Linked DNA regions of Homo sapiens. The protein of the gene in region 4 purifies or fractionates together with the protein of the main gene of each other region. This does not show direct contact. Each region holds a gene or a part of one and is shown on either strand. Other genes may lie near its edges. The genes, in order: DGKH, MAFF, HIP1, DEUP1, ANXA13 and KNSTRN.

The links.
Region 1: the proteins of DEUP1 (region 4) and DGKH purify together in Homo sapiens (affinity purification with mass spectrometry; 3 studies listed by BioGRID and IntAct, with this or other methods). This does not show direct contact.
Region 2: the proteins of DEUP1 (region 4) and MAFF purify together in Homo sapiens (affinity purification with mass spectrometry; 3 studies listed by BioGRID and IntAct, with this or other methods). This does not show direct contact.
Region 3: the proteins of DEUP1 (region 4) and HIP1 purify together in Homo sapiens (affinity purification with mass spectrometry; 3 studies listed by BioGRID and IntAct, with this or other methods). This does not show direct contact.
Region 5: the proteins of DEUP1 (region 4) and ANXA13 purify together in Homo sapiens (affinity purification with mass spectrometry; 3 studies listed by BioGRID and IntAct, with this or other methods). This does not show direct contact.
Region 6: the proteins of DEUP1 (region 4) and KNSTRN purify together in Homo sapiens (affinity purification with mass spectrometry; 3 studies listed by BioGRID and IntAct, with this or other methods). This does not show direct contact.

The regions. Positions count from the first base shown.
Region 1 is NC_000013.11:42,205,648-42,209,147, reverse strand, and holds part of DGKH (diacylglycerol kinase eta), read right to left. Parts: intron 3,110-3,500; coding exon 3,002-3,109; intron 190-3,001; coding exon 76-189; intron 1-75.
Region 2 is NC_000022.11:38,208,494-38,211,993, reverse strand, and holds part of MAFF (transcription factor MafF), read right to left. Parts: intron 1-3,500. UniProt on the Homo sapiens protein: Since they lack a putative transactivation domain, the small Mafs behave as transcriptional repressors when they dimerize among themselves.
Region 3 is NC_000007.14:75,553,942-75,557,441, forward strand, and holds part of HIP1 (huntingtin-interacting protein 1), read right to left. Parts: intron 2,871-3,500; coding exon 2,769-2,870; intron 2,229-2,768; coding exon 2,085-2,228; intron 1,611-2,084; coding exon 1,475-1,610; intron 586-1,474; coding exon 499-585; intron 280-498; coding exon 172-279; intron 1-171. UniProt on the Homo sapiens protein: Plays a role in clathrin-mediated endocytosis and trafficking. Involved in regulating AMPA receptor trafficking in the central nervous system in an NMDA-dependent manner. Regulates presynaptic nerve terminal activity.
Region 4 is NC_000011.10:93,368,742-93,372,241, forward strand, and holds part of DEUP1 (deuterosome assembly protein 1), read left to right. Parts: intron 1-1,331; coding exon 1,332-1,445; intron 1,446-2,296; coding exon 2,297-2,539; intron 2,540-3,500. UniProt on the Homo sapiens protein: Key structural component of the deuterosome, a structure that promotes de novo centriole amplification in multiciliated cells.
Region 5 is NC_000008.11:123,682,844-123,685,393, reverse strand, and holds part of ANXA13 (annexin A13), read left to right. Parts: intron 1-671; coding exon 672-784; intron 785-2,550.
Region 6 is NC_000015.10:40,385,721-40,389,220, forward strand, and holds part of KNSTRN (small kinetochore-associated protein), read left to right. Parts: intron 1-641; coding exon 642-774; intron 775-1,438; coding exon 1,439-1,486; intron 1,487-3,500. UniProt on the Homo sapiens protein: Essential component of the mitotic spindle required for faithful chromosome segregation and progression into anaphase.

The DNA.
Region 1 (3,500 bases), on a different chromosome or scaffold from region 4:
CGAGTTGTTTAGAATAGATTCCTTCAACCCTCCTTAGCCCAAGAAGTGCAGTCAGGTTTGACGAGAGAAACCAACCTGGGCTATTCGATGATGCTGCAGTTTAATGACCCTTGAAACTGCCATTTGCATGCTATCAAATATTGCTACAACTTCCAGGATCTTGTCATCAAAGGATGGTGCAGCAAATATCTGAAAGAAAAACTACATTACACTTCTACTGAATGTTTAGGTGAAGAGCACGTTAAGCAATGTAAACTGCAATATATATCTACATATATTTAATATATTTAATAATATATTTAAGTAAATATTATTAGGAAATAATAATCCAAGAAAAAAATCTCTGAAGATGACTTCCAATAAACCTAACTTTAAAAAGGGTTTTCAAATATACACGGATATACTACTCATACCTCTCATTAAACTACTCTTTGGACCAGTTAACTAATATATTTCTAAATAATTCACCTTGGAATAAAACATGTTAAATACATGTTCATACCTAATTCAAACATGTTAATAAGATGATACATGTAAGTTTTGGAAATCTAAAAAAAACTACAAAGGCGATATAGTGTCATAGAAAGGTGATATAGTTTCATAAAGTTAAAGCTAATGAAGATGCAAATTATGATCCAGTTTACTTGATATATTCTAAGGGAAATCTTTCAAGGTTTTACAAGCAATATACATATGTGCTTTATATTTTAATACAAAACTTTTGAGGGAACTTGAGAGTATGCAAATAGAAACCTCAGAAGATAAAAATTATGCAGACTTATTTTGTCTTTACATTAGATGCATTTTCACAAAATTAATTTACTCTAAAATTTTATATGTAGGCTGTATTACCTTACTCTCTCTTTTACTATATCATAAATAATATGCATCTGAAACAATTTTCAGTATAAAGTAATAAGCTAATTAAAACTTTCACTGAAAATATCAGGACACAAAGTTGCTAACATTGTAATTTGTAATTTTTTTATTATACTGCCTGAATTTAAACCCTGTCTCTGCTATTACTAACTGGAAACTTTGTCTTAGATTCTTCAGCAGTAAAAATCAAATAAACAACGTGGACATTAAATAATGAATGTGAAGCTCTTAGAACATTGTCGGACTACCTAGCAGGTGTTCAAGGAATGTTGGCTTTATTTACCTTAATCTCACTGATTTCTCCCCTTCAAAATACTTAATAGTGACAAGCAGACAAAAGATGCTTTTATACTCGAATAGGACTGGAATATATTTATGTCATGAAAATTACAAATACTTTCCAATTGATCTTATACTGTATCCCTATCTGTCCATTTAAGATCTTTGAGAATAACAGATCAGTAGGAACCATTATATCATTATATCATAAACTCAAATCAATGGATGTGACTCTTCAAATAAAGACTGTGATAACACTTCTCATTTTTACTGATATATATATATATATATATACACACTTTAATAATTGTGCCCTCTCTTTCATTCTTTTCACAACAATTACATTTGTAAGGTTGTGTTTTCTTCTTTTTCTAATATAGAAAAGTATGAAAAGAAAAACAAAAATAGCCCTAAACTCGACCGGCCAAATGAGCCCTCTTGATATTTCTGAAAATAAAAAATATATACACACACAAGTTTAGAAAATTAAAAGTACTGAGGCTGGATGCAGTGGCTCATCCCTGTAATCCTAGGACTTTGGGAGGCCGAGGTGGGTGGATCACCTGAGGTCAGAAGTTCGAGACCACCCTGGCCAACATGGTGAAACCCCCGTCTCTACTAAAAATGCAAAAATTAGCCAGGTGTGGTGGTGTGTGCCTGTAGTCCCAGCTACCCAGGAGGCTGAGGCAGGGGAACTGCTTGAACCTGAGAGGCAGAGGTTGTAGCGAGCTGAGATTACGCCATTGCACTCCAGTCTGAGCGACAGAGTAAGATTCTGTCTCAAAAAAGAAAGAAGGAAGGAAGGAAGGAAGGAAGGAAGGAAGGAAGGAAGGAAGGAAGGAAGGAAGGAAGGAAGGAAGGAAGGAGAGAGAAAGAGAAAGAAAGAAAGAAAGAAAGAAAGAAAGAAAGAAAGAAAGAAAGAAAGAAGGAAGGAAAGAAGGAAAGAAGGAAAGAAAGAAAGAAAAAGAAAGAAAGAAAGAAAGAAAGAAAGAAAGAAAGAAAGAAAGAAAGAAAAAGTAAAAGTACCAAAAGGTATTGTGGTAGGCAGAATAATGCCCCCTCTCTGCCCCCTAAAATGTCCATGTCCTAATCCCCCAAACCCGTGAATCTGTTACCTTACACAGCAAAAGGAACTTTGCAGATGTGATTAAATAAAGGGCCTTGAGATGGGGATGATCCTGGGTGATCTAGGTGGGCCCAATGTAATCACAGTGGTCATCAAAAGTGGAAGAGGAAGCAGCAGACATCAGAGAGATGCCATGTGAGAAGGATTCAACCTGCCTTTGCTGGCTTTGAAGATGGAGGGGAATGTGGGCAGCCTCGAGACGCTCCAAAGACAGGGAAATAAGAGTCTCCCTTAGAGCCTCCGGAAGGCAACAGCCCAGCTGACACCTTGATTTTAGCCCAGTAAGACTGTGCCAGTCTCCCATCATATACAACAGTAAGATGATAAATGTGTTTGAGGTGGCTAAATTTGTGTTAACTTGTTATAGCAGCGATAGAAAACAGATGCAGGTATAAAATTAAAAAGTAAAATCTTCCCTTCCTTATTTCATAAATCTACTTTCCAAAAGCAGACCCACTATTTAATGTTCATCCAGAAAATTGTGACATACATCCCAAGATACGAATATCTGTATCTTCAACATGAGAAAAGTTGGAGTACATCCACAAGAGACTGTTACAATAAAATCTTAAATAAATCTATTCCATGCCTCACTTACCCAATGCAAAATATTTAACATGAAATTAAACTACTATTCAACAGCCCATTTACAAAAGCAAATTATTCCAGTGATATAATTATTTTTGAGGAAACAAACTATTTACTCCCATTACTTACATCATCCTCTTTAGTTCCACCCCAAAAGTTAGTGCCTCCAGCATAGCTGGGAATGTTCAACACGGCTATGCCTTGCAAGCTGGGAAGAGGAATATACTGCCCATCACACTGTAAGGTAAAAAAAAAAAAAAAAAGTAGAGATTAGATAAAAAGAGCAGAACCACTAGTATGGAAGATACTAAAACACTAAAGATGAAGGACAATGGAGCACAGTGTGTTCGTAATGTCTGCTCTCTACACGTTACCAAATCATTTATCTTATTTTTTTTAATTAAAAAAAGTTTGAAGTATAAATAACTATAGCAGAAGTTATTACAAAAAACTGATTTTTAAAGAAATGCTTTACCTCTTTCCTCCAAAACCAGGGAGTCCTTTTCTTGAATCATTTTCAGGCCTTTTATGTACTTTCACCTGCATTGTGGTCCTCTATGTACTTATTTTAAGCATCTTTTTGAAAGCAGACTGGGTAAGAGAAAGTTGATCCTAACCATCTCACTTA
Region 2 (3,500 bases), on a different chromosome or scaffold from region 4:
TAAAAAGAAAACAAAGGAAGATGCTTTGTGATCTGAGCTGTAGCATCCTATAAACACGTACCGTATCGGAAAGAGCATCACCCAGTTTTGTGGACAGCAGAGGGCAAAAGCCAGATCCAAGTCCTGGTTCCTTGAGCTGTCTACAGGGTTGACCTCACGGGTTGGCTCAGCCTCTGACACATTCTGGCAGGACCGGGGTGTCTCCCAGGGACAAGGTGCAGAAATGGAAAGCACATGGACCTTGGTGCCAGACACACCTGGGGCCTTTTGGGGGTGGTCTCGCTCTCTAGTTGTGTGGTTCTGATAGGTCAGCCACTCTTTCTGTGCCTCACTTTCCCCCTGGGTGACACAGGTAGCTGTGTTAAGTCAGCTCATGTCACACCTCTCTCAGGACCTTCCCACGGCTCACTGGAGTAAAGCCAGAGTTGTCACCATGGCCCACAAAGTGCTGCAGAAAGTGATCCCCAGTGGCCGGGCGCGGTGGCTCACGCCTGTAATCCCAGCACTTTGGGAGGCCAAGGCGGGTGGATCATGAGGTCAGGAGATCGAGACCAGCCTGGCCAACATGGTGAAACCCCGTCTCTACTAAAAATACGAAAATTAGCCGGGCGTGGTGGCACGTGCCTGTAGTCCCAGCTACTTGGGAGGCTGAGACAAAAGAATCGCTTGAACCCGGGAGGCGGAGGTTGCAGTGAGCCAAGATTGTGCCACTGCACTCCAGCCTGGGCGAGAGTGAGACTCCGTCTGAAAAAAAAAAAAAAAAGAAAGTGCTCCCCAGCATCCCTTCTCCAACCTCAGCCCTACTTGGCTTCCTTTTGTTTCCCCTGCCTCAGCCACACCCGCCCTTCCTCAACACAGGATGCACGCTCCTCTCCAGGGCCTTTGCACTGGCTGGTCCCTCTGCTGGCGTTTTTGTTTTTGTTTTTGTTTTTTATACAGGGTCTCACTCACTCCGTTACAGGCTGGAGTGCAGTGACACGATCACAGCTCATTGCAGCCTCAAACTCCCAGGCTCAAGTGGTCCTCCTACCTCAGCCTCCCTAGTAGCTGGAACTATAGGTGCATGCCACCACACCTGGCCAATTTTTGTACTTTTTGTACAGACAGAGTTTCATCATGTTGCCCAGGCTGGTCTTGAACTCCTTGGCTCAAGCGATCCGCCTGCCTCCGCCTCCCAAAGTGTTGGGATTATAGGCATGAGCCACGACGCATGGCCTCTGTTGGCATCCTTGTTCCCTAGATATCCACAAAGTTTGCTCCATCACCTCCTGAGGTCTCTTCAAATCTCATGTTCACTCAGTTTAGAATTTGCAACCCCTGATACACACACGGACACACACACACACACACACACACACACACACACACACTCCCTGTGTCCCTTCCCCACCTCAGGTTTCCCCATGTGTAATTGTCATCACTCACATATATGGTGGTTATTTGTTCAGTGTCTGTCCCTCCCAACCCCCCGATTAGAATGCCAGCTCCATGAGGGCAGAACTTATACCTGATTCACCGCGGCCTCCCCCATGCCTAGAACCGCGCCTGGCACCTCGCAGATACTCAAGGAATCCTTGCTGAGTTCTCAGTGTGACTCAGGCCAAGGTGGGGACAGTCCAGGGCTTCTCAGGAAACTCCCCAGCTCCTCCCAGCCCACACAGTCAGGGGGTCTGGCAGCTCACAGGGAAGGAAGGAGTGGGACAGAAGGAAGTTGGCGCTTGCAGAGATCCCCTGACAGGGGCAGCCACTGTGGCCCTTAAGCAGGAGAGTCTTAGGGGTCACCCAGGTTTCGCTGGGGGTAGCTGGGTGGACCCAGAGTGCCAGGTCAGGACCCAGGCAGCTTTAGACCCCTGTGCGGATCCACGGTGAAGACCAGTGGCTTCATGGGGTGACCCCTGAGCTGCGACCCCCCACTGCTGAACATGCCGGCTTAGCCTGGGCTCTGGCCTCAGTTTCCCTGCCTAGCACTCCAAATCCTAGGGGGCTCAGGCCCTGGCTGCCCACCTAGCTCTCCTTGGGGGCCTCTGTGCACTCCCATCCTACCTGGAAAAGTCATATGAGATCTGCTGGCTACCCTGACCTTTCAGATACTATCTGGAGACGTTTACATGTCAACCTCACCGATCCTACCTTTCAATGCAGGCCTTTTTTTTTTCCCTTTTTTTTTTTTTTTTTTTTTTGAGATGGAGTCTCGCTCTGTCGCCCAGGCTGGAGTGCAGTGACAGGATCTCAGCTCACTGCAACCTCCGCCTCCTGGGTTCAAGCGATTAGCTCTGCCTCAGCCTCCTGAATAGCTGGGACTACAGGCGCCTACCACCACGCCCAGCTAATTTTTGTATTTTTAGTAGAGACAGAGTTTCACCATATTGGTCAGGCTGGTCTCGAACTCCTAACCTCAGGTGATCCACCTGCCTCGGCCTCCTGAAGTGCCGGGATTACAGGTGTGAGCCACCACGCCCAACCCAATGCAGGCCTCTTAAGTGGTCACCCTCACCACCCTACACACACCTGGGGAGGTCCCAGCACACCTCCCTGCTGGTCTCAGCTCATTCCCACACAGCAGCTGGACAATCTTTGCACCACGCGAATCTGACCATGCCACCAGCCAGATTAAAGCCTTCCATGGTTCGGCTGGGCAAGGTGGCTCATGCCTATAATCCCAGCACTTTAGGAGGCTGAGGCGGGCGGATCACAAGGTAAGGAGATTGAGACCATCCTGGCTAACATGGTGAAACCCCGTCTCTACTAAAAAATACAAAAAATTAGCCGGGTGTGGTGGCAGGCACCTGTAGTCCCAGCTATCAGGAGGCTGAGGCAGGAGAATGGCGTGAACCCGGGAGGTGAAGCATGCAGTGAGCCGAGATCGCGACACTGCACTCCAGCCTGGGCGACAGAGTGATACTCCATCTCAAAAACAAACACAAAAACAAACAAGCAAACAAAAAAAAAACCTTCCATGGTTCCCTACTATCCTAAGGATGGAGTCCAGACCCACCCTCCCAGCACCCCAGGCCCTGTGTGTCCAGCCCCACGCCCATTTCCCACCACTGCCACCTCCACTCTGTGCTCCAGCCACACAGAATTTCTTTCACTTCCTCCCACCCGCGCTTTCTTGCCTCTGAGCCACCTCCCACCCCATGATATTTCTCTCCCCTCACTCCCCTCTACTTTGTTTGGCAGACTCCTACTCATCCTTCGGCCCTGGGTGCAGACATCTCCTCCTCCAGGAAGCCCTCCCTGATCCCTAGGACTTGTTAGGGACCCCCACCCCTGTGTGTAATGGGTTGTATTTCCTTGCTGTCTCTCCACCAGACAGGGAGAGGCTGAGTCAGCTCTGGGTGCTTGAGGCCACCCATCTCAAGACCTGGCAGGGAGCAGGCACTGGGGAAGGGTGGATGGTCAGAGTCTCTGACGCCATCACCCAGCTTGTCACCAAGCCGGGTTCCAAGCCGAAACGTAGTTCAGTACCTCCTGGCCCTGTCTCTAATTCTTCCTCCTCT
Region 3 (3,500 bases), on a different chromosome or scaffold from region 4:
GCCATGTTGGCCAGGCTGTTCTTGAACTCCCGACCTCAAGTGATCTGCCCGCCTCAGCCTCCCAAAGTGCTGGAGTTACAGGCATGAGCCACTGCGCCCGGCCCAACAGAGACTTTTAAAGGCCCCCTGCTCCCCTGGTCCATGAACAGCCCCTCATGCCCCGGTACTCACAGTCGGCAGGCTCAGGTGGGGCTCTGAGGCAGGTGGTGGCACCATGAGCAATGGCGTCGCTGGTCAAGTGGGCCAGCAGGGTTATGGAATGGAGAAGTCCACTGATGTCTGCCAGGATTGGAAAGAGAAGTTTCTCAGGTCTGGTTGATGGTGACACTTTCATACCCTCTCCTCCCGTTTTATGAGTTGCCTACATGCCTTTCTTGTATGAGTTGCCTACATGCCTTTCTTGATGCAGAGGGACCTGTCACTATCCCCGCATTCAGGTGCTTCTGAACCCTGTCTGGCCATCACTAGCCGACAGAGACTGTCCTTGGCCATTCTTACCTTCTGGGCAGGCCAGATACTGGCTCCAGCTTTTCTCCAGTTGCTCGATGCAGCTGGAAATGGATGTGACCGTGGAGAGGAGGTGATCTGTGAGAGGGAACACAGGGCAAGGTCAGAGCAAGTTCTCATAGCTGGCTTCATCCTCGTTAATTAAGCACTGAATGGAGGAGCTTACCTAGTGGGTAAGCTTCCTGCCTAGACGTGAAGTTCATGAGTAATCACCTCTTGATTCAGACCATAGTTTTTTCCTTAGAGAAACAGAATTGTCTGCTCCTGGTGGGTGTTTTATCAGTGTGACCCACTGTCTAAAGCAGTAGCTATCACACCTGGGGGCTTTAGAAAATACTACTGCTGGGCCTGGCGTGGTGTCTCATGCCTGTAATTCCAGCACTTTGAGAGGCCAAGGTGGGAGTTCAGAAGTTTGGGACCATCCTGGGCAATAGAGTGAGACCTCGTCTCTACCAAAAATTAAAAAATTAGCCAAGGCCAGGCATGGTGGCTCATGCCTGTAATCCCAGCACTTTGGGAGGCCAAGGTGGGTGGATAGCCTGAGCCCAGGTCTTCAAGACCAGTCTGAGCAACAAACCGAAACCAAAAATTAGCTGGGCGTGGTGTTGCGTGCCTGTAGTCCCAGCTACTTGGGAGAATGAGTGGGGAGGATTGTGTGAGCCCAGGAAGCGGAGGTTGCAGTGAGCCACGGCACTGCACTCTAGCCTGAGCAACAGAGTAAGACCCTATCTCAAAAAGCGGGGGGGCGGGGGGGGGGAAGAAAATACTAAAATACTAGTGTATAGGCACTAATGCACAGAGTTTCCACATGTAACTGATCTAGGATGGGGCCTGGGCGCCCCTAAGGTAATGCTGACATGCTGCTGGGCTGAGAGCCCCTGAGCTAAGTCTCACATGAGATTCAACATCAACAGAGTCTCAGGCTGTAAGGACCTGGCCCCTGCCAGCTGGGCAATTGCAAGTGTACCTGCAGACCCAGCGCAGCTGATGAGAGGAGGTTCTTCAAGCTGGTTCAGGGCGTCTTGTATCACCTGCTCCGCAGCCTTCCTGGACCCCACCAGAAGCATTTTTCGTTGGTCTTTGGCAAGCTGGCACATAGATTCCTAAAAATGGTCCAGGGAGGTGAGAGTCTGCCCTAGACTCCATAATGAACCTGAGCAGGATGACCTGGCTGGGGCTCTTAGCATCTTAGCTCAAGTCATGGCCAATGAGGTCCAAGCCAGTAAGCCTGAGACAGAGAAAGGCGCTTTAACTGTGTGCACAGGATGTGCGGCTGCCCACGATGTGCGGCTGCCCACAGAGGCTGTGGGGATGGATCACTGCGCCCGCTTCTCATGGCTGGGAGGAGATGCCAAACTTCTCTTCTCATACAAAAAAGACAGCAGTTTGCTTTCCCTCATGGACTCTGCAGGCAATGCAGGGCCTGCTGGCATTACACCTACAGAATGTCTGCACAATCAGGCCAAGGCCCCAAACCCCTTCTCAGCAGCCCCGGGGTCCTCCCAGCCTCCGTGCATGCGCAGAGGCCCTCGGTGGGAATTCACAGGTGCTCGCTCGTGTCCATGTCCGTGACTTGCCTCTGTGCTGGCCAGTTTGAGCTGAGTGTCCTGCAGTTCTTTCCGAAGAGCAGATAATTCCTCCTCCCTATGAGCTGCGCCACTCACCAGGCTGTCCCGCTCCTTCTCTAGCTCGGCGAACTCGGCTGCCCAGTTTGCTTCTGACTGCAAAGGTGACCACAAGGAAAGAGGGAGACGCTGGTTGAGTTAAACAGTCCCTACTTCCCAGAGGTCCAACCCACCACCGGGTTGCAAGGACTGGGAAGGTGATGGCTCTTTAACCTGCCACTCTGATTCCCTCCCGGGGACACACTGATTGCAGTGGGGGCTGACTTGGCCAGGCCAAGGATGGTGGATGACAGCAACGCCAAAGCCAGGGGTGGGGCAAGAAAGGAGGCCGGGCATGAAGGCTCATGTCTGTAATCCCAGCACTTTAGGAGGCTGAGGTGGGAGGATCACTTGAGCCCTGGAGTTCGAGACCAGCCTGGGCAACATAGTGAAACCCCGTCTCTACCAAAGAAAATACAAAAACTAGCCAGGTGTAGGGGTGTGTGCCTGTAGTCCCAGTTACTCGGGGGGCTAAGTGGGGAGGATCACCTGAGCCCAGGGAGGTGGAGGCTGCAGTGAGCTGCGATCGCACCACTGCATTCCAACCTGAGTGACAGAAGAAGACTCTATCTCCAAAAAAAAAAAGGAGGTATTTACCTGGGCAGAAGTTTCCAGGCTGCCTTGCAGAACCTGAAGCTCCCGTTGGCTTGTGGCAAGTTCCTGCTTCAAGCTCTCTAGAACTTCCAGCTGTTCTTGAGTCTGAAAGAGAAGAAAAACAGAGGGACTCTGATCTGGGTGACAGTGACAAAGAATATAAAAATGTAAAAACGTCCCAAGCGATCAACAAGAGATCTGTAAACTCTACTGTATGTAAGTTACACCCCCCCAAAAAAGTGCAGGGTGTGGGAGGAGGAGGCAAGACCCCAGAGTGTACTGAAAATGTGGAATGTCAAGGAAGGATTTTTTATTATTTATTTATTTATTTATTTATTTATTTATTTTTGAGACGGAGTCTCGCTGTTGTTGCCCAGGCTGGAGTGCAGTGGTGCAGTCTCAGCTCACTGCAACCTCCACCTCCAAGGTTCAAGAGATTCTTGTGCCTCAGCCTCCCAAGCAGCTGGGACTACGGGCACACGCCATCACACCTGGCTAACTTTTGTATTTTTAGTAGAGATGGGGTTTCACCATATTGGCCAGGCTGGTCTCGAACTCCTGACTTGGTGATCCACACCCCCCTCAGCCTCCCAAAGTCCTGGGATTACTGCCGTCTCAAAAAACAAACAAACAAAACAAACAAACAAAAAAAAACGCTCATCCCTCTCTCTCTGCCACCCATGTGTTTTCCTTTCCTCAAACTCTCCACCAGCCTCATCCTTGGAAAGCCTTTGT
Region 4 (3,500 bases):
CTGACCAACATGGTGAAATGCTGTCTCTACTAAAAATACAAAAAATTATCCGGGTGTAGTGGCACGTGACTGTAATCCCAGCTACTCAGGAGGCTGAGACAGGAGGATCACTTGAACCTGGGAGGTAGAGGTTGCAGTGAGCCAAGATCGTGCCACTGCACTCCAGCCTGAGCAACAGAGCGAGACTCCATCTCAAAAAAAAGAAAAAAGAAAAAAAAGAAACCACCCCCGTGCCCACCAGCCACCCCCCAACACACACACACACTCGGGATCACAATTCAATGTGAGATTTGGATGGGGACACAGAGCCAAACCATATCCCCCAGCATAGTCAGATTCTGGTGAGGGCCCTTCTCCTGGTTCACAGATAGCTGTCTGCTCTTTGTATCCTCAGATGGCAGGGAGAAAGAAAGAGAGAGGAAACAAAATCTCTCATAGCTCTTCTTATAAGAGCACTCATCCCATTCATGAGAGCTTCACTCTCATGACTTAATTACCTCCCAAAGGCCCCATTTCATAATGCTGTCACTTTGGGGTTTAGGCTTGACATATGTATTTGTTGTGGGGGACACAAACATTCAGTCCTTAATAGTCACTAAATAAGTCCAAGCCCCACCCTCTAAAAAAACAAGAGGAGAAATTTGGCAACTGAGTGAATGAAGGAAAAAATATTTCGTGTCAAGAAATAGAAAGAAAGTAGTGGCAAATGCAAAAAAAAAAAAAAGTTGTTTGAAATTCCCTTATTAGTAATAAGTATTTGTTATAAGACAGACTTTTTACATTTTTAACAATAAGTGACAAATTCTGTATTTTCCTAGCAAAAATTAGAGATGGTAAAAAATCCAACATGAATGATTTGACACCTTTTCTTTTGTTTGTTTTCCCTAATAGGTAAAGAATGGATTTACGGCCGGGCGCGGTGGCTCACGCCTGTAATCCCAGCACTTTGGGAGGCCGAGGCGGGCGGATCACGAGGTCAGGAGATCGAGACCATCCTGGCTAACACGGTGAAACCCCGTCTCTACTAAAAATACAAAAAATTAGCCGGGCGAGGTGGCGGGCGCCTGTAGTCCCAGCTTCTCGGGAGGCTGAGGCAGGAGAATGGCGTGAACCCCAGGGGGCGGAGCCTGCAGTGAGCCGAGATTGCGCCACTGCACTCCAGCCTGGGCGACGGCGAGACTCCGTCTCAAAAAAAAAAAAAAAAAAAAAAAAAAGAATGGATTTACTTTTTTTTTCTCAGAATGAAGATGTACAAATGAAAGAAGCCTTATTTGCTGTACTTTAAAATGAATAACATTTTTAAATATGTTTGTCTCCCCACTTTTTAAAAGGAATTTAGAGCAAAGTCAAGAGAATGGGACAAGCAAGAGATATTATATCAGACTCATCTGATTTCTTTAGATGCTCAACAAAAATTATTATCTGAGAAGTGTAATCAGTTTCAGGTAAGTTATCTAATACTATTCTCTAAATCAAAAGCAGAAGTTAAATATTGGTATCTTTACCATTCACCAGTAATCTATTTACAAACAGACATGCCAACTAAGAAAAAACGAGAGTAGGTCCAAAGGTGGGTACAGTCACAAGTGCATAGAATATCTGTTAATGGTGAGTTTAGTCTACATGTCTCAAAGGATGGAGCTATTTAAAATTCCATTGTTATTGTGTCATTAAATAGCATATGTTTTTGCATGCCTACAGGCAAGGCACTCAAAGAATTTACGATTGCTTGCTTTACTTTGTATTTCCCTGGCTACTTGTAAGACTGAACATCTCCTCATATACTTTTTAGCCTATCTCAGGTCTTTCTGTGAATTGCCTATTCATAAACTTTGCCCATTTTTCTTTTGCATTGTTTGCCCTTTTCTTATTGATGTGTAGAAGTGTTTGTACACTAGGAATTATTAACTCTGTTACATGCATTGACAACTTTTCCCCTACAATCAAATTGTTTGTTTTTATTTATTTTTGGTTATAGACTTTTTTCAACCATTGTATAATTGAATTTTTTACACCTTCTAGATTTTTTTTCTTGCTTAGTATGGCTTTACTACCACTAACCTCCTTCTCTACTCTACATCTTTGCTCTGAGGTTATACAAATATATTTTCTCTATATGCCATCTGAAATTGAAATTTTAAAACAAATATAAGACTGAATTACAAAGACCCAACTTTCATTATGTAGTAACATATTTAAAGATATTCCTACTAATTCTTTTCTATCATTCTTGAACTTCATGTAAGCTTAAATATGACATTCTTCATTTGAGTTACACAGTTTTTATATTTTTCAGAAACAGGCACAAAGTTACCAAACTCAACTAAATGGTAAAAAACAGTGCTTAGAAGACAGCAGCTCTGAAATTCCTCGTTTGATATGTGACCCAGATCCCAATTGTGAAATCAATGAAAGAGATGAGTTCATTATTGAAAAACTGAAATCAGCTGTAAATGAGATAGCACTAAGCAGGAATAAATTACAAGATGAAAATCAGAAGCTCTTGCAAGAACTGAAAATGTACCAAAGACAGTGCCAGGTGAAGATTAATTTTTTTTCAACTAATATTGTCCATGACTTGTATAAATGGTAACACATATAGAGATTAGAATGATTAGAATGGTAGTTTTCTATTATTAATATATGTGAAGATTCCATTCATATTTCCTCTTAGTAATTCGCACTTGATGCGTAGATTCAATAATCCCATAAGTATGTTACCACACTTAGAGTGCACTTTGGTTCTGCGGTGGCATAATAATAATGTATTACCAGTGCAATATAATAGTGGTCACTTACGGACCTCTATGCCTTTAGCCATGTACTACCCTCTTCCCCCACTATTTTCTCTTACCCTGTGTTTCTTTGACTCAGAAGAATCCTGGGTTAAAGATACAGGAAATCGTGAAGGGTTCAACAATTTAGTAACCTCAGTGAGAGCTATGGAGATGACTCCAGTGATTTATCACTGGTAATCTTATCATAATCATTTATCAAACAGTAACCTAGAATTTATTTTTAGGTAACTTTCACATTGACAAATATGATTGATGGTTTAACAAGCATTAATTTTTTTTCTTAACTGAATAATGTTTTTTTCTTTTTTGTCTATTTCTTGCAACCTTTAGGAAGGTTATACAGCATTCATCAAAATTGGTCATTACCAATTTCTTTACAAAATATGTATTTCTTTTTTTTTTTTTTTGAGACGGAGTCTCGCTCTGTCGCCCAGGCTGGAGTGCAGTGGCGGGATCTCGGCTCACTGCAAGCTCCGCCTCCTGGGTTCACGCCATTCTCCTGCCTCAGCCTCCCAAGTAGCTGGGACTACAGGCGCCCGCCACTACGCCCGGCTAATTTTTTGTATTTTTAGTAGAGACGGGGTTTCACCGTTTTAGCCGGGATGGTCTCGATCTCCTGACCTCGTGATCCGCCCGCCTCGGCCTCCCAAAGTGCTGGGATTACAGGCGTGAGCCACCGCGCCCGGCCCAAAATATGTATTT
Region 5 (2,550 bases), on a different chromosome or scaffold from region 4:
GAATAGAGACCACGCTTCATTAAGCTGTAGATAGATCAAAGCTGGAAGGCAAGGGGAAGCCAGGAAAGAGCAAATAGCAGCATCGTAGGAAAGTGATCTTTAAAAAGGATCAAACATTTCATCAAGTCCACATCCCGGATTGCAAACCAAAAGATCGTGGGGAACCTGGAAAAGGTTCAGAGATGAGGCTTGCAAAACAACCCCAGTGAGGAAAAACAAAGAGTAGGGAGGTTGTTGAGCATAGGAGAGCAGGCGGCTGTCCAACTGGATACATTGTCAAGATGATGAAGTTTTGTTCCAGAAGGTTGCTGGCCAATCTGTTTCCCTTCAGAACCCTAGGACAGCACCAGAGATTTCACTCGATAGGGAAAGTTATTTCTGCTGGGAAATAACGAGAATCATGGACGTGGCCGGGAGGGCCCGAGGATGCCACAGCTCTCCTCTAGAGGGTCTTCAGGGGACAGGAGGGGAGCTATGCTTGAAGATTCCAGGTGCTCTGACCAGGGAATCTTCCAAATCTCATTTCGCAACGGTGTCAAGTCAGCTCTTTTCACACCTCTGTCTCACCATCCAGTCAGCTCGAAGGGCAGCCAGGTGACATTTAGGGGGGTCCCAAGGTCATTCCACAAAACGTGAAAGCCTCACATTCTCTTTTCCTTTGTCCTGCCCAGTGAGATGTGCCCAGGATTGTGAGGACTATTTTGCTGAACGTCTGTACAAGTCGATGAAGGGTGCGGGGACCGATGAGGAGACGTTGATTCGCATAGTCGTGACCAGGGCCGAGGTAAGACACACTCCGACTCCAAAGAGGCGGCTGCAACTTCTCTTTTTTCCACCACTGATGTCATCAACAAATAGTTTCTATTAAGGGCCTATTTACAGAAAAAGTAAAACAGAGACGGCCCCTTGCCTTCCCAGAATTTGCAGAAGACATTGTGCTCTGCTTCAATCTGTTTCTTTTTATAAAAATACAATAATGATCGTTGCTTCTTTTTTTGTCCTCTGTGGCTCTGGAGAGCTAGTGGAGGGGCGCAGAGGCAACCATGTCGAGCAGTTCTCAGGGGCTGCAGCTATGCATGGCTCCATGTTAAGGAAGACAAAACAAACACACTTGAAAGAGGTCAACCAGCAGCAGGAACAAAAAGAGAATGATTTCTGAATTCCTGAGTGAGGCCTTTCCTTAACTGAACACACTGCAGAAGCAAGCACATCAGCATAAGGCAATGGTTCTCAATCTTTTTAAAAACTATTGCTGTTCTAAGGAACCTTTTTAGACACGTGTTTCTTCATTGCCATCCCTTCCCCACAAGAAATGTTAACACCAGAGATAATACTACAAATCTGTTTATATACCATGTGGATATCAGTGCTTTATACATAAAAAAATTAAGGGCTTTTTCACCCCCTAAAAACCAATTTGTGCTTGCTCTCGGAGAATGTGTATGTATAAGAAAGAAAAGGGAGAGGAAGAGCCAACGGCTTGGGAGCAGCCGTCAAGATCACAGCTGGTCGGGTGCAATGGCTCATGCCTGTAATCCCAGCACTTTGGGAGGCCGAGGTGGGTGGATCGCCTGAGGTCAGGAGTTCGAGACCGGCCTGGCCAACATGGTGAAACCCCGTCACTACTAAAAATACAAAAATTAGCTGGGCATGGTGGCACACACTTGTAGTCCCAGCTACTCAGGAGGCTGAGGCATGAGAATTGCTTGAACCCAGAAGGTGGAGGTTGCAGTGAGCCAAGATGGTGCCACTACACTCCAGTCTGAGTAACAGAGCGAGACTCGGTCTCAAAAAAAAAAAAAAAAAAAAGGTCACAGCTAACAGTTCGGGATATGGGGCCACAGACAGAAGGTGGTACAAAATAAAGGGGAAGTGGCATTTCATCGGCAGCAGGAGAAGCCTTGGGGAATGAAGTGGAACTAAGCACTTGAAAACCACAGACATCTTCCCTCAAAAAAAAAAAAAAAAAGTGGTTAAATGAAGGGGGAGGTGAAGGGGGAGGGACACCAACCCAAATTCTGATCCATGGCTTCTTAACAAATAATGCTTAACATCTGACACTGTTTTTAAATATAACTTTGCAACAAGATGGTTCTTGCTTTTTTATTTCTATTCCTGGAATTTCTCCTCCCCTCCTTTCTCCTCCTCCACAACTCATCTTTTTCTATTGAAGGCCATGTCTCTCTCTCTCCCCTCTTTCCCTTTGCCAGTCTCTCTGCTCTGCTCCTGCCATGCCTCTGCCTCTCTCCTCCATGGCTCCAAATCCCTCTCCCTCCTTTCTCTCCAGGTCTTCTGCCTTGTCCGTCCCTCTGTCTGTTAGCAACTCGACCTCCAGCCAAAGTCACTGAGAGATGAGAGATCTTGAGGGACTCAAAAGGGACAGGTTGAACACAATGAAGACCCAGGATTCCAAATGACCCCCAGAGAGACTGGATCCATCCGAAGGGCTTGTGAGGGTTCCGTGATCACTCCGACATGGCCCACGGAGTGTTTTATTCCAAGAAGCTCTGTCCCATCTCAGAATCAACCACACGTCCTGGGCCATCTCAA
Region 6 (3,500 bases), on a different chromosome or scaffold from region 4:
AATGAGATGGTACAAGGATTCAGGCATGTTTTACCTGCTAACTTCCACCCTGCTCTCTGCTGGTGTCCATCTCCATGTTCACTTTTACAGCCTACACCTTTCAGTTCAATGAAACTTTTGGCTACCCTCAAACATGCTGTACTGTCACGTTTAAATAATTTTGGTTTTTATTGCCAATTAGCCTGGAAGTTTTATTCTTTTGAATTAATCTTCACATGTTGAAATTTGCCAGAATGAAAATAAAGATTTGGCCAGGCATCGTGGCTCACGCCAGAGTGGCCAAGGCAGGAGGATTGCTTGAGCCCAGGAGTTCGAGACCAGGCTGGGCAACATAGTGAGACCCTGTCTCTATTTTTAAAATTTTAAAACATATTTGAGGTGCCTATAGTCCAGCTACTCGGGAGGCTGAGGCAGGAGAATCGTTTGAACCCAAGAGGTGGAGGTTGCAGTGAGCCAAGATCACACCACTGTACTCCAGCCTGGGCCACAGAGCAAGACTCTGTCTCAAAAAAATAAATAATACTTTTTAAAATAAAGTAAAATAAAGATTTATGACAACTTCGAATGGGGCTCTGTTTGTTACAGGGTTGCAACTGTCGGGTCATGATGCCAGAAGCTTTACCTCTCATTTTCCTTTGCAGACACACAAACTCGGGCCACTTCTAAGAGTCTCTTACCTGTTAGGTCCAAAGAAGTCGATGTTTCCAAACAGCTTCATTCAGGAGGTCCAGAGAATGATGTTACAAAAATCACCAAACTGAGACGAGAGAATGGGTGAGAACGGATCATTAGTATCCAGTTAGAACATCTTCCTAGAAATTGCTCAATACAAAGAATTAGAAAACAGAGTTTTGGACAACACAAGTCTCCTGAACAACTGGCCTTCAATCAGTGGCCCAGAGCAGTGCAGCATTGCTGAGCTCTGTGCCAGAACCCTCTGTGTTGATCTTTCTGAAGAGACACAGCCAGAGTTATAAGAGGTGTTCTTTCCTCTTTCATCGCTTGCTCTGAGCATACAAGTGGCAGCACTGTAGTCATACAGCAACCCTGAGGGGTAGTCATGCAGGGTGGGGACTAGTTGTTATCCTAGGTTGCTGCTCTGACCACACAGTCCAGCCCTAGTGTGTGTGTATGTCCCCAGCCAGCAGTCAGTTCCAGGTGAGTGAGGTTGACATGAGATAGCCACGCCATCTTGAGAGGAACAGCTCTGTCAGGTTGTTAGGGTGGTCGGAGGCATGCCCCTTTGCTACTAAAAAGCCTTTTCAATAATCTGTGCCGAAGCAGTAATGCATAGTCTCTCAGAGCTCTTAAGCTTGTGCCATTTGCCTTTTATGTCTGGTTCTTTCCTCAGAAACTCAAGCTCTTTGTTCTGCCTGTTCACAGCACACTTAACAGTACTGTAAGTCTCTGATTCATTTCTTTGTTTCTGCCCTCCTAGGCAAATGAAAGCTACTGACACTGCCACCAGAAGGAATGTCAGAAAAGGGTGAGCATCAGGGTAAATCAACTTGGCCACTATTCTAGGGTAGTGGATCTCAATCCTTGGTTCTGCATCAGAATCATTTGTGGGACTTGTTTACTGTGTTAGGGTCTGGGTTCCACCTCAGGAACCTGAGTGGAATTTTCAGGGGTGAGGCACAGCTAGGTGTAAGAACCATTGTCAGTGCAAGAATCACTGGTGCTACTATCTTGTGTCTCAAGCAAGAGCTTTTTGGACTCCACGCCAGGACCACTGCTGATTGGAAATCACACTTAGCTATGGCCCATCAACAGGAGGGTAAAGCCTTCAGGAGAGGAAGGGCTGGGTGTATGTAGTTAGTGATCTCGAGATGAAGATTCTGGTGGTGGTGGTGGTGAAAACCTGGAGAAGGATTCATGTCTCATCTTTGAGGCTAGTTTGGAAGTTTTGCACTATCAGAAATAGAAATAATAAGCTGAAAAGTCTGTACAAATAGGTTTTAGTTCCAGATCTATTATTTGGGCATATCTTAAAAGTTTTGAAGACAGCAGGGCACACCAGCTCACACCTGTAATCGCAACACTTTGGGAGGCCAAGGTGGGTGGATCACCTGAGGTCAGGAGTTCGAGTCTAGCCTGGGAAACATGATGGGACCCCATCTCTACTAAAAATACAAAAATTAGCCAGGCATGGTGGCGCATGTCTGTAATCCCAGCTACTCAGGAGGCTGAGGCAGGAGGATCACTTCATCCCGGGAGGCAGAGATTGCAGTGAGCCAAGATCACGTCATTGCATTCCAGCCTGGGTGACAGAGCAAGACTCTGACTTACAAAAATAAAAAAGTTTTGAAGACAAAATACTAGCAAAAAAGACTGAGAACTTTAAGAAAAAACTCTAATATTGGTTGCTGAGACCAGCTTGGTCGGGGAGACCCTAACCCAGCGGCGCTAGAGGAATTAAAGACACACACACAGAAATATAGAGGTGTGAAGTGGGAAATCAGGGGTCTCACAGCCTTCAGAGCTGAGAGCCCCGAACAGAGATTTGCCCACGTATTTATTAACAGCAAACCAGTCATTAGCATTGTTTCTATAGATAGTAAATTAACTAAAAGTATCCCTTATGGGAAATGGATGGGCTGAATTAAAGGAATAGGTTGGGCTAGTTAACTGCAGCAGGAACACGCTCTTAAGACACAGATTGCTCATGCTATTGTTTGTGGCTTAAGAATGCCTTTAAGGGCCGGCGCAGTGGCTCACGCCTGTAATCCCAGGATTTTGGGAGGCCGAGGCGGGTGGATCTCAAGGTCAGGAGACCATCCTGGTTAACTATGGTGTTTCACCGTCTCTACTAAAAATACAAAAAATTAGCCAGGCATGGTGGCGGGTGCCTGTAGTCCCAGCTACTCGGGAGGCTGGGGCAGGAGAATGGTGTGAACCCAGGAGGTGGAGCTTGCAGTGAGCCGAGACCACGCCACTGCACTCCAGCCTGGGCGACGGAGCGAGACTCCATCTCAAAAAAAAAAAAAAATGCCTTTAAGTGGTTTTCCGCCCTTGGCAGGCCAGGTGTTCCTAGCCCTCATTCCCGTAAACCCACAACCTTCCAGCATGGGCATTAGGGCCTTTATGAACATGTTACAGTGCTGCAGAGATTTTGTTTATGGCCAGTTTTGGGGCCAGTTTATGGCCAGATTTGGGGGGCCTGCTCCCAACAATTGGTGATATTAGAGTTTATTAGATGATAAACTAACATTAGATAATAGCCCAGCTACTGGGCTAAGAAATGCACACGTGTTTTCTCTCTTATTACTCATAATAATAATACTATGAGATGTGGGTATTGTCCTGATTTCAAAAATGAGGAAACAAGGCCTCAGGGAGGTTATGCAACTCACTGAAGGTCATATACCACTGTGTAATAGCCAGGATAGAATGGGACGTGTTTGTGTAACTCTGTAGGCCGTATTTTTCTTTCTTTTTTTTTTAGACGGAGTTTTGCTCTTGTTGCCACCCAGGCTGGAGTGCAATGGCGCAATCTCAGC